3 separate regions of the Homo sapiens genome follow, and all the other regions are linked to region 3. Evidence: fine-mapped expression QTL. A gene starts in region 3. Each other region holds a variant in brackets. All regions are shown on one strand. Distances are from middle to middle. Region 1 overlaps HPCAL1 (hippocalcin like 1). Region 2 overlaps HPCAL1 (hippocalcin like 1). Region 3 holds the start of HPCAL1 (hippocalcin like 1).

Evidence for each region. PIP is the estimated chance that this variant, and not a neighbour inherited with it, causes the effect. A credible set is the group of variants that fine-mapping cannot tell apart.
Region 1: its variant is the best candidate, but not a certain one, in a credible set for the expression of HPCAL1 in whole blood (INTERVAL, PIP 0.63).
Region 2: its variant is the best candidate, but not a certain one, in a credible set for the expression of HPCAL1 in whole blood (INTERVAL, PIP 0.82).

Annotation. Positions count from the first base shown.
Region 1 is chr2:10,384,838-10,390,619 of GRCh38, forward strand. The region is part of intron 1 of HPCAL1 (hippocalcin like 1); the gene reads left to right. Among named protein-coding and RNA genes, the nearest start is that of SNORA80B, 59 kb to the right of the region's middle. The variant G/A (reference allele first, on the strand shown) is at 2,385.
Region 2 is chr2:10,340,282-10,346,063 of GRCh38, forward strand. All of the region lies in intron 1 of HPCAL1 (hippocalcin like 1), which reads left to right. Among named protein-coding and RNA genes, the nearest start is that of HPCAL1, 40 kb to the left of the region's middle. RefSeq lists an enhancer at 3,864-4,364. The variant A/C (reference allele first, on the strand shown) is at 2,502.
Region 3 is chr2:10,300,296-10,306,077 of GRCh38, forward strand. HPCAL1 (hippocalcin like 1) reads left to right here and starts at 2,609. Exons shown (of 5, transcript NM_002149.4): 1 at 2,609-2,882. LOC101929691 (a long non-coding RNA gene) reads right to left here and starts at 2,422. Exons shown (of 4, transcript XR_922791.3): 1 at 1,283-2,422; 2 at 547-718. RefSeq lists silencers at 2,144-2,923, 2,808-3,005, 3,324-3,503 and an enhancer at 3,184-3,243.

The DNA of each region.
Region 1 (5,782 bases), 85 kb after region 3:
CAGGCTGGGTGCGGTGGCTCATGCCTGTAATCCCAACGCTTTGGGAGGCCGAGGTGGGTGGATCACAAGGTCAAGAGATGGAGACCATCCTGGCCAACATGGTGAAACCCCGTCTCTACTAAAAATACAAAAATTAGCTGGGCATGGTGGCACACGCCTGTAATCCCAGCTACTTGGGAGGTTGAGGCAGGAGAATCACTTGAACCCGGGAGGTGAAGGTTGCAGTGAGCCAGCCTGGCGATAGAGCAAGACTCCGTCTCAAAAAAAAAAAAAAAGATAGAGGTGACAGGAAGACCCCACCATGAGTGGCCTCCACTGAGTGCGCATGTGAGTGAGCAGCTGTGCGGTGGTCCTTGCCATCTTCCCATCAGCCCCTCCCAGCCCCTGGGCCTGGAGAGGCTGAGAATCTGACCTAAGGCTGCCCAGTGGCGTGAGGCTGGCCTGCCGAGCTTACGTCCCTGGGGGACTCCAGGACCCCAGTGCTTCCTACTGGTGGCTTCAGCTCCCGGTCACTTGTCGGGAATGCAGGGCTGAACCCCTGGAGGTTGTGTGGGACAGGGCCCAGGAATCTGCATTCTAGCAAGCACCTGCTCCAGGCTTGCTTCCCTGGCAGGGAGGCTTGGTGATCCAAGTTCCTTGGGTGCAGACACTTGCTGCTTCTCTCGGAGGCCGGGCTGGGCTGTGATTTTTTCATCCAATGTGCTGGGCTGATTTCACTTGCGGATGCAGAATGAGAAGCTGTAGAGGAGATCACGGCAAGCTGTCTGCATGGACGATGGCAGAATCCGGTGTCTGCTTGGCCGCGTGGTGTCACTAATAGGATTTGCCGAGCCTTTTGGATGTTTGTGGCGCGACGGCTGCTGTGGGAACCCAGAGGCTGCTCATTTGCAGGGAATGAATAATTTATTTCTGTTTTCAGATGACTTATTCCTTCATCTGCAGCCGAGCCCCCACATGTTCTGTAGGCTCCTGATTAAGTGATTTCAGCAGGAGAATTTGGCTTAATCCCCCACTGCCCTGGACGCCTGGTTCCAGGCTGCTGATTTGTCGGCCTCGTGTCGGGGGGTGTCCGGAGCCTCTCCTCTCTGGGGGCTTTTCTTCCTGCTCTGCCTGTTTGGGAAGCCTCTGGCCACTGAGCATGTGCTGGCCTTGGGTTTTACGGCTGTCTGGCAATTAGAATATTAATGTCGATAACACAGCAGGACTTGCGTGTGACAAGCTGAGCCACATAACGTCACAGTCGCTCTTGAACATCTCGGACTTTCACATGGGCCAGCCACACCCCAGCCTAGGTTGCTCCCTCACCTCCTCAGGGCCTCCCTGATGTCGGTTTAGACATGTGCCTTCCATCTTGCCTGGGCCACCATGTTGATCCTCTGGGTCCATTGCTCAAGAGCCCACCATGGCTCCCTGTTGCCAAATGCAGCCTGAATTCAGTATTCAAAGCCCTCCGTGAATGGGCTTGGTCCTTCCTCCCTGGCCTCTCTTGCGTGGCTCCATGCTCTGAGCTGCCTACTCGCTGACTCATTCATTTAATGTTTATTCTTTGGTTGTTGTTTCAGCACTGAGTGGGTCTGTGGAATCATTTACATGTTTATTGAGAGTCCCCCTGGCTGCAGATGCTGGGCAGGGGCTTTGATGTGGGGAGAAAGACCCCCCCCCAGGTTACAGGTAAGCCCTCCCAAGTGGCCCAGGGCCCTGGGAGGGGGTGAGGTTGTGTGAGATGGCAGTGTGGGAGAGTCTCAAATTTTTGGCATCTTTAATCTGCCCACTGGGTGAGATTGAGGACTCAGGTGGGTGTCAGGGGCTTTGAATGCCAAACCACAAAGGTCTGCAGGCTGGGGGAGCTGCAGGAGGTTGTCATCAGTGGCAGGGGCCTTGGAGCTTGGTGGAGGAGACCACGCTTCAGATGGCCAGCTGGAGCACCCCCCACCAGCCCCGCTGCCTGGACCCCTTCCACCTCTCCATGGACCCACCTCAGGCCCTACCCACCCTCTGCACCGCCTTGCACGGCATTGCTTAATTTCACTGCAATGGCTCACTGGGGCTGCTTTCCTCCCTCTCTTATTGCTCTCTGGGTGAGAGTTGGTCTCTGGCCTCCACATGAGGCAGGGACAGTGCCCAGGGAGTGGCCAGTGGGAGAAGCGGGGCTTGCAGGCCAGGTGGGCCCAAGTGTGATTCCTGGTGCAGTGCTGGTGGCTGTGTCGCCCGGGGCAAGTGGCTCAGAGCCTGTTTCTCATCTGCAGATGGGGGGATGGTCTGTACCTGTCCAGCACCCATGAGGAGCAGGTGGAACAGGATGTGGCAGTCAAGGGCTCCTGAGGGGACCCGTAAGTGCCACATTCAGCCTTCTGTGTTAAGGACCATGAGTCCAAAGAGTAGTC[G/A]CGTGTGAATCCACCTCCTTGTGCCAGCCTCACGGCCTCCTCAGGAAGGGCATGGAGGAGCAGTGGGATGCCCACGGTACCGTGGAGGAAGCAGTCCTGGAGGAAGGGTGACTGGCCGAGGGCCATGCGGTGACGCACTGGGGACTGGCTCTAGCTGCTGTGGGGCACGTCCACGTGGAGAAGCGCTTGGTGTATTCCCCCACCCTCTCACCCCCACAGCGTTCCTGGTGCTCTGGGTGCCTGCTGTTTCTGAGCCATCTAGGTGGGCACAGGGACAACCTCACCAGGGACAGTGTGGCCCCATGCTGGTAAGCAGGCGATACTGACCCTGGTTCCAAACTGCATTCCTGTTGGTCCTTTGTCTTGCTCTTCCGGTATCATTACGAACACAACTTTAGAAAGTTTAACAGTGGTACTCAGAGAGGCTTGTGGCCCCAACTCATGTGACAGTGACCAACAGGTGAAAGGTGACTTGTGGTCTGAACACCTGCAAGGGACACTTATTCCGATGCCTGAATCTTTGCATCTCTGCCCAGCAGATGACAGCACCTGGAGTGTTAGCTGGTCATACCTGGACCTGCGAGTGTAGGTAAGACCCTTCTTCTCAGGGCCTGTTTGCTCAACTGCACGATGGAAGGGTTGGGCAAGATGGATCTTTCCTTTCTTTTCTTTTCTTTTCTCCTTTGCAGTTGAACATTTTTCTTGCCACTGAAATCACAGGTGGAGGTCTGTGTGTTCGGCAGGTGAATGGCCATGCAGGGGTGGAGGGAGGCCTGGATGCTTTTTCTTCCCTGCACTCGCAGGCCCCCCATGGGACCCTCAGCCCCCAGAGGACAATTGGAGGCTTCTGGACTAGGGTTCTAAGGTCTCCTGAGAAGGTCAGAGGCTCGTTGTCCGGCCAAGACAGACAGCAGACAGTTGGCGTGTCTCAGGGTAGGAGGCTCCCCAAATAGAAAGTACTGGATTGGGAGCGGATTTATTGTTCCCTGCCTCCCCGGGGCCGTCGGCATTTCCCCTGTGGCTGCCTCACTGTTCTGATGTTGGCAAAGGTTTGTTTTATCTTCCTCCTTCCAGAACAGGAGGTGCCTCAGTGCCTCAGATGCTGCCTGAGAAGGTCAGTGGCATCTGGGAGCCATGGTGAGGGTGGCAGTGACTGGGCTCGGGAGGTTCCAGAATTCTGTTAGTGAGCAGTGAGCTGTTTTATTTTCCTTCCTGCCTATGGAAGGTCCTGAGTGAACAAACAAGTTTCAGTCTCAAGACAACACATCGTGTTTCGAGGTGACCTGTCCCCACCCCACCCCTGTCACTGGGAGAAGACTGCAGGTCTCACGGTCTCCCGTCTGTCTCTGCTGCCCCCAGGTCCAGGGACTCCTGCGATTTCTCTCCCTGGTGCCTGGTATTTTTGTAGCACTCTCTGGTTTTCAAAGTTTTCCTACAACAATTGTGCTTAAAATGAAATATAAACTCCATCCCCAGCCCCCAAGTCCCACTCCCTGCCGACCTCGTCTCTTACTGGGAAGGCCCATCTTTGTCACCAGCAGCAGCTGTGAGTGCCTCGTCAGTGTTTAAGAGTCCAGGTCGCTGCAGCATCTTGGTGTGTACTGTGGACCCATTGTGTGTGTGCCCCCAAATTCCTGTGCTGAGACCCTCACTCCGAGTAGGATGTTATTAGGAGGCGGGGCCTTTGGGAGGTAATTTGGTCATTAGTGCCCTTATAGGAAGAGGATGCGAGCCAGACCTGCCTCTGCTGTCTACCAGGCAAGTATATAATGAGAAGGTGACGTAGGAGGCGGGACTCGACTCCAGAGGCAGGACTCAGACACCAGACCAAATTGAGGACTAGCTACAACAGGGCCAGGGTAGAAACAGCTTTCCCTAAGACGTGCCCACCAGTGTGCATGTCAGTTTACCACTGCCATGGTAATACCCGGAAGTTACGGCTCCTTTCCGTGGCAATCATCTGACGACCTGGAAATTACCACCCTTTTCCTAGAAATTTCTGCATAATCCACCCCCTAATTTGCATGTAATTAAAAGTGGGAATAAATCTGATTGCAGTGCCGCCTCTGAGCTGCTGCTCTGGGCACACTGCCTGTGGGGTAGCCCTGCCCCGCAAGGAACAGTCCCTCTGCTGCCGCTGGGCACAGCTGCTTCAGTAAAATTGCTAATACCACCGGCTCACCCTTGAATTCTTTCCTGAGTGAAGCCAAGAACCCTCCTGGGCTAAGTCCCAGTTTGGGGGCTCACCTGCCCTGCAAGATCAGGAGCCATCTGTACACCAGGAAGACAGCCCTCCCCAGAACTCAACTGTGCTGGCACCTTGATCTTGGACTTCCAGCCCCCAGAACTGTAAGAGGTAAATGTTTGTTATTGAAGCCACCCAGTCTATGGTAATTTGTTAGAGTGGCCTGGAGGAAGACACAGTATTAAGTAAGGCTTCGTGTCTGACTTCACTGAACACTGCGGTTGTGAGACGCATCTGTTGTGTGGGGCACTGAGGTTCATTCTGATTGCTTTATGGGACTCTGTTGTGACTGTACTCCAGTTTCTCTGCCCGTGGAATGTACATGGATGTTTGGATAGTTTCCAGGGTGGGGCTGGGACAAATTGTGCAGCTCTGAGTGTTCCTGCACATGCTTTGTCTTGGACATGTGTCCTTCTTTCTGTTGGACATACATGAAGGAGGTCAGCTGCTGCTTCACGGGGCATGTGTGTGGTCATCTTTAGTAAATATGCCAGTTTTTCAAAGTGGTCATAGACAGTAGATTCCTTTTATTATGTGACAAGAGCTCAAATGCCCTGGTAGTGGGAGTGGCAGCAGGAGCTACAGTAAGACATTGCACATTCTCTGGAAGTCAGGGATCCCTGCCAGTCAGTTCCCAGTGCCCCAGGAACCAGGGGTTTGGTGCTGGGCACTAGTCATGACCACTCGCGGCTCAGGTGTTGGGTGGTCTTTCCAGACCTTCACCTGTGTGAAGCTTGCAACCTGGATGGTCTCATGTGGACATCTTGGCTTCCACCCTGTGCTCTGTGTCTGGTCTCAGACCACAGCCCACCCTGGTGGTCTCCTCAGGACACATAGGCTCCTCTGTAACTCAGTTTCTTGAATTGAACAATGGAAGAAAATGCCTCTATGAAGAGAGGTCATTGTGCAAAACGTCTGTGTGACAGTATTCTTGGAGCAACTGTGCTTATCACCCGGAGGCCACAGTGGAATTAGTCATTTGAAAACCAGTCACCTCCAAAATAGTCATAATCCAAAACCATCCATCTTTGACTTCAGACTCCATTATAATTTTTTCTCCCTAAGGGACTTTGCTTTGTAATTATGTTGGATTTCCTAATATATTAAAATAATTTGTCATCTCTTGAGCACACATCTGCCTGCTATGAGCAAG
Region 2 (5,782 bases), 40 kb after region 3:
TCCTTCACTGATTACTGGAGCTTCTTGGTGTGCAGTGTCTAGGCTGCTTTCTAACCATGTAAGGTGTAGCCACAGTATTGTAGGACCTGTTGCTAAGAACTGTGCCACTATCTTGATAAACATGTTTTCCAGGGACTGGTGGTGGAATGTTCTAGTTATTAATGTGCCTTTAACGTTGGATGACTCAGAATATCCCTCAGATAGTAGGAATAGGTAGCTTTGAGAGGTCATCTGTAGGAGGGCGCAGGAACATCCCAGGAGGGGGTGTCATACCTGTTGGCACCATGGGGATGCAGGCTCAGAGGGGACTGAACTTTCCAGGGCCACGCAGTCTGTAAGCGGCAGAGCTGGGACGCAACCCCAAGCTTGCTGCTCTCAAAGCTTTGCTTTCAAACTCTCACTTCAGACATCAGGGCTTCCTTTCAGACTGAGTCTTATCCCTAAGCACTGTTGGAGAAGAAAGTCTCCAGGCTGCAGGGCCCCGCAGTTCCCCCATATCCCTGCCCTTCCAGCCAGCCCACGCCTGGGGCCTGTCCTCCCCTGTTCCTGAATCCCTGTCCTGTTACTGCCCTCCGGGTAAGACAGCACTCTTATAATCATGCTTCATGCCGAGTTCATGAAATTAACTCTCAAACTCCTCTTCTCTGGGTTAAATTATTTCACTTTTTTCCCTTCCTCATAGAATATCATTATAAATTCTAGATACTATATTGGATATGTAATAAAATCAGAATAAATTACATGTGATGGCCACTGAACTAACCTCCCTTCATGTGTCTGGAGGCAGGTTTTCTGTGGAGTTATGCTTTAAATTGGCTGTCCTTCGCGATTTTTCTTAAAGCCTAGGTTGACTACTCAAGGGTCTAGATTTATGATAGAAACTGTGGGCTGGGGTGCAGTGCTGGGGTGCTGGGGTGCCTGTAATCCTAGCACTTTGGGAGGCTGAGGTGGGCGGATCATTTGAGCCCAGGAGTACAAAACCATCCTGGGCAACACGGTGAAACCCCATCTCTACAAAAAAATACAAAAATTAGCCAGACACGGTGGTGCATGCCTGTACTCGGGAGACTGAAGCGGGAGGATCACCTGAGCCCAGGAAGTCGAGGCTGCAGTGAGTCATGATTGCGCCACTGCACTCCAGCCTGGGCAACAGAGCAAGACCTTATCTTAAAAGCAACAACAACAACAACAAATTGTGGCACAAATGTATGCATGGAGGTACTGAGGGCCTTCTTTATAGTAGGCTCAGGAATGACCAATGGGTGGGGGCTTTGGGGGAAGAGACGGGGGTCTTTAAGCAGAAACTCTCCCCTCAACACAAGAAAGCTGCTGAAGGACTTCAGAAACCTAAACACGAGCCGTGGGCCTTTCTAAAGTGGGGAGGGATTCCCTCCTGCCTAGGTTATGTTGCAAGGCTGCCCGAGAGAGGGTGGAAGGGGGCAGGAGAGTGGGCATTGGCTGGGTCCAACGCTTCCCAAGAGATGTGACTGTCTTAAAAGCAATACCTTCCTGATTACCACGGGAAAAATTCAAATGTTTTGAAAAGATCTACAAGTTTGGGGTTGAAGAAGTCCTTTATTTCAAAGTTTCTCTGGGCTGGGCGTGCTGGCTCACACGTGTAATCCCAGCACTTTAGGAGGCTAAAGTGGGAGGATCACTTGAGGATTGCTTTGAGGCCAGCCTGGGCAACATAGTGAGACTCTGTCTCTAGATAAAGTTTTTTTTTTTTTTTTAAATTAGCCAGATGTGGTGGTGGTGTGCTCCTGTAGTCCCAGCTACTTGGGAGGCTAAGTTGGAAGGATGACTTGAGCCCAGGAGGTTGAGGCTACAGTGAGCTCTGATTGTGCCGCTGTGCTCCAGCCTGGTGACAGAGTGGACCTTGTCTGTAAAAATAATAATAATAATAATAAAGCTTTGCTCCCCGTTTCATTTAGATGGAGCGTTTGTGGGATTTAAGACAGATTTTTCCTTGCTGAGTGGTTATCATTAACCTGTTGAATAAGCAACAGGCCGAGGTGGGGACCCTGCCTCGCCCGCCTCCAGGGGCACACTGCATTCTTTGTGGAAGTGTCCCTGGAATGCCACAGCCCTGCTTCTGTGCGAGGCCAGTCAGTCTGGGTCCTGGGATATAGCCACATGTGCAGTCCGTGCCTCCAGCGCGCAGCCTGAAAGGGAGGCGTGCAGAAACAACGTAGCTCCAAGGAGGACTGATCAGCCCAGCCTGGGGGAGGGTGGGAGGGGACTCCCAGGGAGCGGGGCTTGTGCTGGACTTTGCAGGATGCCAGACTTTTGGCAGGGGAGGAAATTGAGGTGAAAGCATTCCAGGCCTAGGGAACAGCATGTGCAGAGGTGCTGGCTGGAGGAACCCCGTGTGTTTGCACTGTGCTCTGAGCTCCCTCTCATGACTCTCATTCTTTCTCGTTGAGTTTTGTTTTGTCACCCAGCCGGACTCCTGGGCAAAGAGAGGCACAATCTGTTCCCGGTTGGGCCAGCTGCCCTCC[A/C]GTAGCTACGCAGGATGCTCTGGCCGGCCTCTGAGGATTCTCTTCTTCTGTCCATCTCATGGCTGAAGACCAAGGCTATGGCCTGTGGGTGGCAGTTGGTACCTCTCCCCGCTGCCTTCCCCCGGCCCCTTTTTGGACAGGATGTTGCTCCCTGGGGCCTGGCTTTGGAGATGGCCAGTGCTGGTTTGAAGCTTCTGTCTTCTGTGTGGGATATCAGTGCCCTGCCAGCTGTTGCAAGTTTTAAACTCAATGTGCCTCTGGATGTGTGTGTAGAGTAGGGGTCCTTCCCCAGCTCCAGGCCCTGTGTGTTTCCAAGTGGGCCCGCAGCTCTGATGTGCAGTGGGTATGCACTGGCAAGCCGTGCACTGTCACAATATTAAAATAACTTCCATGGTAGTTGGTAAATAGCCCCATCACCCCTCTCCTGGGACCCTGGACCTCTAGCACACCATGGAGGCCTGCCCCGTCCCCATAAAACACACCACATTCAAATTACTTATCTCCTCTTCCCCTGCCACTCTGCTGAGAAGGCTGATCTCAATCCTCGGAGTAATGACTCTCTTCTAGGAGCAAGATGATGCTAATTCTCACTAGCATGTGAAGGACTGATAGCACCATATCTCCCTCCAGGACTCCCGGGTGGGAGGTGGGTGTTTGCATAGGCAGGCAGGTGAGCCAGCCTAGTTTGTCCACAGACTTCCATGCAAGTGATTCCTGCTGTTCCCTGGGTCTTCCTTTCTTTTGCTTCTGAACTTGGAGGTTTCTTGAAGTCTGGAGGATTTTTAGGGTGGGCATGGCTTTAGGTGGGACCTCCACTATATGGGTTTGCAAGCTGCCACTGCTTTGACTGCAGACACTGGATTGACCGTGGCCAATGCCAAGTCCAAGAGATCAGGCTGAAACCAGGCTAAATTTTAAGAGCAGAAACAAAACTCATCCTTGCGAAGGGACTTTTAGATCAGTGGCAGATGGCATAGAAAGTCTTTCTGCTGTTCTCTTGTGCTGGGCGTGGCTCAGGGCTGAGGGGAGAGAGGAGAGATGAGGGCAGAAAGAGAAGAGGGGGCAGGCCTCAGGGATGAACACATGGCCCATGGCTGTGCGCTTCCCAAGCAAGCAGTTCTGGAGTGAGGCTTGGGCCTCCATGCCTCCTGGGAGGCTGCACCTCTTGGGATATAGAGAACGCTGGCTTCAGACCCGGCAGGAGTACCGGCGGCTGTGTGGTGCATCCTGCACAGAGCTGTTGCTTTCTAACTGGGTTACTGAGCTGTCGAAGGAGCAGGGATGAAGACTCCCTTATTAAAAACTAAACAAAACACAACACGAAAAAGCCAGAACAAAACAAGCAGACGGTTGAGGACTGCAGTGAACTCATTAACCCTACAGCTTTGATCTCGAAGTCTCGGCCGCTCCTGGCTCAGAGGACCCTGGGGACGTGGTCTTTGATGCTTGCTTTCCCCATAGGCATCACTTCGACCAGCGTCTGTGTGGGGTGTGCAGCAGCCCTGAGCCAAGGATTAATTACGTAACAAGCCCAGATCCCATCCCTGCCTGAGCAGGCCATGTGCCAGCAAGGGGGGCCCCGAAGTGCCGCTAGGTGCCTCACGATTAGCATAAGGCCCGTTTATCCAGGAAGCCAGAACCAGTGCACATCTGTTAAGCGCATGCACCAAGCGGCGATTCCATAGTTGTATAGTGATTGTCTTTATGGAACTCCAGAATAGCTTCTTAGATATCACTCTTCAGGCCCTGAAATGGAGCCCTGTGCAAAGAAATGAAGAAAAGCTATCGGGGCATCTGCAGCCACTATTATACCATCTGGCAGCTCAGAAATATTTTATAATCAAATGAGTAAGACGGGCGTCCCACACTCCACAGTACTCTGCTCCCCCTTCCCTTCCTCCCAGGACTTGCTCTGTCTCTGTCTCTTTCTCTGTGTCTGTCTGTCTGTCTCTATGTGTCTGTTTCTCTCTCCCTCTTTCTGTGTGTGTCTCTCTCTGTGCCTGACTTTCTGTCTCTTTCTGCTTCTCTCTCTGTGTCTGTCTCTGTCTCTCTCTTTCTGTGTGTGTCTCTCTCTGTGCCTTTCAGTCTCTTTCTGCCTCTCTCTATGTGTCCGTTTCTCTTTCTCTCTGTGTGTCTCTCTCTCTGTGCCTTTCAGTCTCTTTCTGCCTCTCTCTATGTGTCCATCTCTCTCTCTTTTTCTGTGTGTCTCTCTCTCTGTGCCTTTCAGTCTCTTTCTGCCTCTCTCTATGTGTCTGTTTCTCTCTCTCTCTCTTTCTGTCTCTCTCTGTGCCTGTCTTGCAGTCTCTTTCTGCCTCTCTCTGTGTGTCTGTCTCTGTCTCTGTATGTGTCTGTCTCTGTTTCTGTCTGTCTTGCTCTCTCTGTTTCAATCTCTCTATCTCTGTGCCTGCCTGTCTGTCTGTCTCTTTCTTTCTGTCTCTCTGTGTGTGTCTCTCTCTCCGTCTTTGGGACAGACTAGAGGAACCTTTTTCCCAGGAGTGATAATACTGTACTCTGCGTTTTTGCCACTTGCTAGCTGGGTGACCTTGGGCGGCTTTCAAGTTCCCTTATCCTGGGTTTCTTCATTTGTAAAATGGAAGCACTACTTCACAGTGCTGTTGTGTGGGTCAAGATGAGATGAATGTGACCTACTGTGGTACTATTTATTATTTGTCCTAGAAAAACTTTTTTTTTTTTTTGAGACAGGGTCTTGCTGTCACCCAGGCTGGAGTGGTGGCACAATCTTGGCCTACTGCAACCTTGACTTCCCAGGCCCAAGCGATTCTCCCACCTCAGCCTCCCAAGAAGCTGGGACTACAGGTGTGAGCCACCACACCCAGCTAATTTTTGTATTTTTTGTAGAGACAGGGTCTTGCTATGCTGCCTGGGCTGGTCTCGAACTCTTGGGCTTAAGCGATCCTCTCACTTCAGCCTCCCAAAGTGCTAGGATTATAGGCATAAGCCACTGCACCCATCCAGAAAAACTTTTAAAAATTTTGTGTTTTAACTTTTTCTGAATATAAAAGTGATACATGCATGTTCACTGTAAAATAGAAAATATAAAGAAACTAGAAAACTATTTATGACGCCCCTCCCCCACCACAAAAGGGGCAAGGACTGCGAACTTTTGCCGTATTTTGGAAGATTTCCTAAGTCACACAAGCACACAGATGGTCTGTTGATCCAAACCAGGAAGAACAATTGTGGGAATAAGTGGAAGTGTGAGTGTGTGGGTGTGTCTGAGTGTGTGCCCTGGGGGTGTGTGTGTCTGTGTATGTGTGAGA
Region 3 (5,782 bases):
AAGTTAGAAAAAAATTGTCATAAAACTAAGTCAGATATTAAGAACAATCAGAATTACTTCTGTCTTGTTTACAGTCATCATATGAAAAACAAATTGTTTATCTAGCATGACACCTGTTATGGGTTGAATTGTTTCCCTCAAAAGATGCTGAACTTCTAACCCTTGGTACCTGTGAATGTGACCTTATTTGGAAATTGGGTCTGCACAGATGATCAAGTTAAGATGAGGTCATTAGGGTGTGCCCTAATCCAATAATGACTGTGTCCTTATGAAAAGGGAAAAGAGACAGGTATATAGAGAAGATGTGAATTCACAGGGAGCGCACATGGCCATCCATAAGCCAAGGAATGCATGAGGTTACCAGAAGCTAAGAGACAGACATGAAACAAACTGCCCCCCACATCTCTCCAAAGGGGCCAGCCCTGCCAACACTTTGATCTTGGACTTCCAGCCTCCAGAGCTACAAAACAACACATTTCTGTTGTTTAAGTTGCCCAGTTGGAGGTGCTTGTTACATTAGCCCCAGGAAATTATACAACATCTTACCTGAATTTGCTTTCTTCTTTGCTCTAGTTAAATTCAAAACTACATATTGAATAACGACGGTGTGCTCTCTCTCCATGAAGCTTCGGGGTGGGTAGACAGTCCTCCTCTTGAAGGAACAGGAGGGACGCAAGGGAAGGGACCAACTTGTATCTCATCTGAGAGAGATACACTCCTGGAATAAGAGGTCTGCGGTTAAGTGTGTTTCTCTAGAAGTTCAGAAACAGAGGAAGCATCTGCGGGCTAAGCTGCTGAGGGCTAGGTGAGAGCTAACTGACCTAAGTTTTGAAGGATGGATGGGTGACAGGTTGGAGGGGGAAGATGGAAAAGTCACATGGGAGAGGAACAGCATGGGCCAAGTGTGGAGGAACCAGTGAGTGGGCTGGGTTTCAGAAACAGGCCTTGGTCTGCTTTTGAGCCCTCCCTGAACTTTTCCACCCCAACCCCACCTCCTGCCTGTGTCTGCCATGCACCTCCCTTCCTGTGAGTCTGTGGACAGACTTTGCCCCTTTGCCCTGTGTGTGCTTGGGAGAAATCTGCTCAGTTTCTGTGGCAGGGATGTTTCTACGTGTTCATCAAACCGGCTTTGTTTACTTCCGAAACACTCATGAAGACCACAGCTGCCAGAGCCCCTTGCATCCTGGTGGGACTGTGCGACTACTTCTGGCCCATGGATGTGGGTGGAAGTGACGTGTGCTTCCCCAGGCCTGGCTCCTGGACCCCACCGACGGCTTCTCACCTGTAACCCCACCAGCCTTCTACCTGGATACTTCACGGGGAGCTAGAGTGGCCTTGGCTAAGAAGGAGGCATGGCACCCGCGGGTACCGGGCCGCCTTCATCAGTCGGTGCACTCTGGTCCACCGCCCACATGCCTTCATGTAATCTTCACTGTAGGGCCCACAGGGAGGGGAACTTCCTCGAGGTCTAGCTTTGCCTTTCCGCCTTCAGAGCCAAGTAAGAATGAGGGGTCTGGGCTCGGCCCACCTTCCCTGCAAGGCCCTGTGCCCGCTCCCCTCAAAGCTGGTCTTGCATGTTGCTCTGGCGGCCTCTGTAGCAGGAGTTCACTCTGTTTTCCGTGGAGGAGGAGTGGAAGGAGGGATTCAAGCTCTCCCCTAGAGACGCTAGAAAGACAGTTTTGTCTCAGCCTCATACGATCGCCCAGCTCCACATTTCTGGCTGTTTCTGTGGTTACCTTTCTTCGGGGATGTTTGGGGCGGGAGGTGGGTGTGTGTGTATATTTGCTCTTCTGAAGCCGTTTTTCCGGAGCTCCTGGTGGGGGTGGGGGTGCTCTGTCCCTGGTTCCTCTCGAGGCAGGTGCAGGGGATGGAGGATGCCCCCCTCCCCGAGAGCCAGGAGGCGCCGACCCTGGGCAGGAGGTGCCAGACCGGCGCCTCTCCCGCGTGGAGCTCGAAGACCACAGATGCCTGGAAGGGAGGAGCACCTTCCGTGGTTAGGTGGGGAAACCGAGGCAGAGGCGGCCCAATGGACTCGCCTAAACGGCCTGGGGAGTCACTGCAGGTAACCAGAGCTGGAGCCAGGCTTCCCACTCCAGGCCCGGGGCTCTCCCCCGAACAGGCGTGGGAAGGGGTGCGAGCTGCACGCGGGGCTGGGGCTGGGGGTGCGGGGCTGGGGCAACTCGGCTCTTCCCCTTCCTAGGCCGCCCGGGCCACTTCCTGCGGCGTGGGGGCGGGGGGCGCGGGCGCAGGGCTGGCCCCTCCCGGGCGCCGCCTCTCGGCCTCTTCTATACCAGCAGGCCAGAGGCCAAGGGTTAGGGGAACAGAACCGGTGCCCGGCTCCGCCCCTGTCCCGAAAGCCACTGGGGGCTGGGACCCGGCAGGGCCAGGTTTGGGCCGCGAGGGCCGAGGAGCAGCGAGGTGCAGGGGCTGCGAGGGCCGAGCCGGGCGCTGAGGGTCCGGCAGGGGGCGTGGAGGGGGCGGGGCCCGGAGGGGGCGGGGCCGTAGGAAACTTGAGCGCCCGCCTCTGGCCGCGCGCCCCGCCCCGGCCCCCGCCTCCGGGTCCCGCCTCCAGGTCCCGCCTTCGCGTCCCTTCCTTCCCGGAGCTGGCAGGCGGGCCGCGGCGGCGGCGGGCAGCGGACGGGCGGACTGACGGGCGCCTCCACCTTGCTCCCTCCCTGGCTGCCGGCTTCCTTTTGTCTTTCTGGGCGGCGATGAGCGCAGGGCCGGCGCAGCAGCTGCGGGCGCACGGAGGCCCGCGCTGCTAGTCACTCCTCCCGGCCTCGGCGCGCTTGTCCCGGGCAGCGGCCCGGGCCCGCTGCAGCCGCCGCCGGCGCCGAACTTGGGCTCGGGAAGCCGGCGGACCGCGTCCTGCGCCGGAGCAGGTAGGGAAGGGGCGGGCTGCGGTCTGCTGGCTGCTGAAGTGTGCCCCGGGCGTGTGCACCCGGCGTGTGCACCGGCGAGCGCTGCGATCCGGCTCTTTGCGTGTGTGTTGTGCGCGCGTGTGTGTGTCCGGGAGTGCCCGCGTTTCTCTGCGCGGTGGAGTTGTGGGTGACTGCGGACGGTGGTGTGTCTTTCGAATGGCGTGTACTCGTGGGCATCCATGTGTGCCTTAGGTGTGCACATTTTGGACTGCGTTTGTGGAATTGTGTGTCGGGGCGCAGTTGCTGGTGGGGAGCGGTGCCTGGCGGGTGTCGTGTGTGAGCAGCTGTGCGCAGAGCGGGGTGGCGGGGTGGGTGTGGGTGGTCCAGCCCCACGCCCAGAGCCCCCTGTCCCTGCTGGTCGGCGCAGTGCGTAGCTTAGGAGCCTCGAGGACAGCTGGGACCCGACGGGCAAGGGCGGGCCTCGCGGGCAGGCTGGGCAGCCCTCAGGGAACAGGTCCGTGCGGCCCACGTGGGTCGCCTGTGAGCTTCTGCCAAGGGTGGGGGCCCACGCGGAGGCGATCCGCTCGTTCCTCCCAGGGCCATGGGGCGACGAGGAGAGCCCTGGCCTCCCCGCGACCCGCACTGCGACCTGGGCCAGACGCGCCACCTTCCCCGGTCGCGGTTTGCTTCTCTTTAAAATGAGGACAGCTCCTCCCTTGGGGGCTGTGGTGACAGGTGAAATGAGAACGCACTGAAGACAGCTCTTGGTCCAAAGCCCCGCACACAGTAGGTACTGTGTTAATTGGATTAGCGTCTCCTGTTTAAAATCCTTTTTTTTTCCCCTTTATCGTGGGTGGGGCCTTACATTTTCCCCGGGCGTGTTTTGTGCCTCTCCCTGGCCCTAACTTAACCGCGAAGCACTGAGATTCGAGAAAGTTTAGCTGCCAGCTGCGCTGCCTCCTGCAGCACCTCCCGGGCGGCGCCGCCTCCGCGAGTGCCCGAGAGCGCCGCGCTGGGCGCCGGCCCTGCCCCAGCCCCCAGGCTCCCGCGCAAGCGTGGGGGTCCCTCTCCTGGCCGGGAGGCAGCGACTGCGGAGTTGAGAACCCTTTGGTTCAACAAGTTCCTAGTCCGGGAGGATGCAGCTCAGCTCGTGGAGTCCGAGAGTCACGGCGTAAAATTGGCGCTTCCCGCACATGCAGATCTCGGGCTCCCGGGGTGTCCCGGCCGCCAAAGGCCACCCCTTTCCTCCTGGCTGACCCCAATTCCACCAGAGGAGGATGTTTGCCAGGGACGCCGAGTCCAGCTGCTGGCCTCGGCATTAGACAACCCCCAGCCCCAGCCCCTGCCATCCCTGCTCCCTTGCAGCCAGCCTCATGCCGGGGGTGCCACATGGGACACCTCCTCCTAGTCCCACACCTTAATTTAAAACATTTACTTTTGAAACCTACTAGTCGTAAAATTGAACCGCAGTGAACGAGCACCCAGCTCTTACCACGACTCACTCTCTGGAGAGTTCTGGCGCCTCGGCGCTGGCTCGGACGCAGCAAGGCCAGCTCTAGGGGTCGGGTGGCTCTCGGCCAGAGCGAAGGATATTCTTTCCCTTCATCGCCTTGGTGTCTTTCTCTGGGGGAAAAAAATCGCCTTTAACCAAGGGAGCCAAGATCTCACCAGTGCAGGAGGCTCTCAAAATGGAGCGCCGGCATGGGGTTGGGCTGCGGAGGGGACAGCATGGGCGGCCTTTTGGTATGGATGCGCTTCCCAACTGTCAGGGGCTACGTGATGGTGTTCCCAGAGAGGCGGGCTGCTTTGCGGGCTTTTAGGAGCCAGGGATAGAAACCTGGTCCGGTTCCTTTGGTTTCCCTCGGCCGAGACTGAAGCCCTGCAATCCTAGCCATGGCAGGCCAGGGGGATGCGATGAACTCATTTTCTCATTTTTCATCCTGACTTAGTGACAGGGGCACACTTAGAATGCACCCTGTTTTCTGTTTCATCAAATGATTTTATGTCCTACAAGAAAAAAGGGCTTTTGGTGTGAATCCTACTCTTTCCTCATAATCAGGTTCCATAATAATATTAAAAAAAAAATCAGTCTGGCTTTCTCAGCTCAGAAGACAGACCCAAACCCAGGTTTGTGTTTTGTTTTGTTTTTGTTTTTTTCTAGTTAAAGCCAGCCCTTTGTCTCAAGCAAGCCAGTGTTTTGGCCTTAGATCTATTTCTGTTTCACTTTTGAAAGTGCCTGTAATTACTGAGCTCTTGAGGTTTTATTGGATAATGTGGCAAAGGGAAGGCCCGGGGGCCCTGCCTCTCCCTTGCGGTGGGATGTGGTGCCACGGTGGCACATTCTAGCCTTGCCTGCTCCCTCTGCGTCCCACTTTCATGCTGTTTTTAAGGTGGAACAGAAATGTCAATGTGTGATAACAATTTGGGAGACTTTGTCTTTGGAATCCAATAAATGGAAGGTCCTTTGATCTGTGGAGAAACCAGAACAAGTCAAAACCCCAGAAGAACAGAGATTTGCCCAAACTCCAGCCAATGACCCATTTATTTCCAACAAGCCCTCCTAGAGATAGATTCTAAGTGAAATACAAGAACGTGGACACACTCCGTCCCCTTTCTGGCCACAGGGCTGTGCAGAATTAGAAGTGCAGTCTATGGAAGGACAAGGACTGGACTTCGCTTGGTGCAAACGCCCCAGCCAGGCGCCCCATACTCACCTAGCACCATTTCACCCTGGAGCTGTTTCCTCCTGTTGAAGCGCTGGTGCTCACACCCCCTACCTTCAGGGCTCTGCAAGCACAGTTCCAAGGTCTGCAGCGCGGGTACAGTGCATGCCCTGCTGAGTGTGCGTCAGAGCAGTTGTCTCCCTGTGACACTTATTCTAAGACCCTTTTTGCTACTCATAAGTGGTAGAGTACCACACT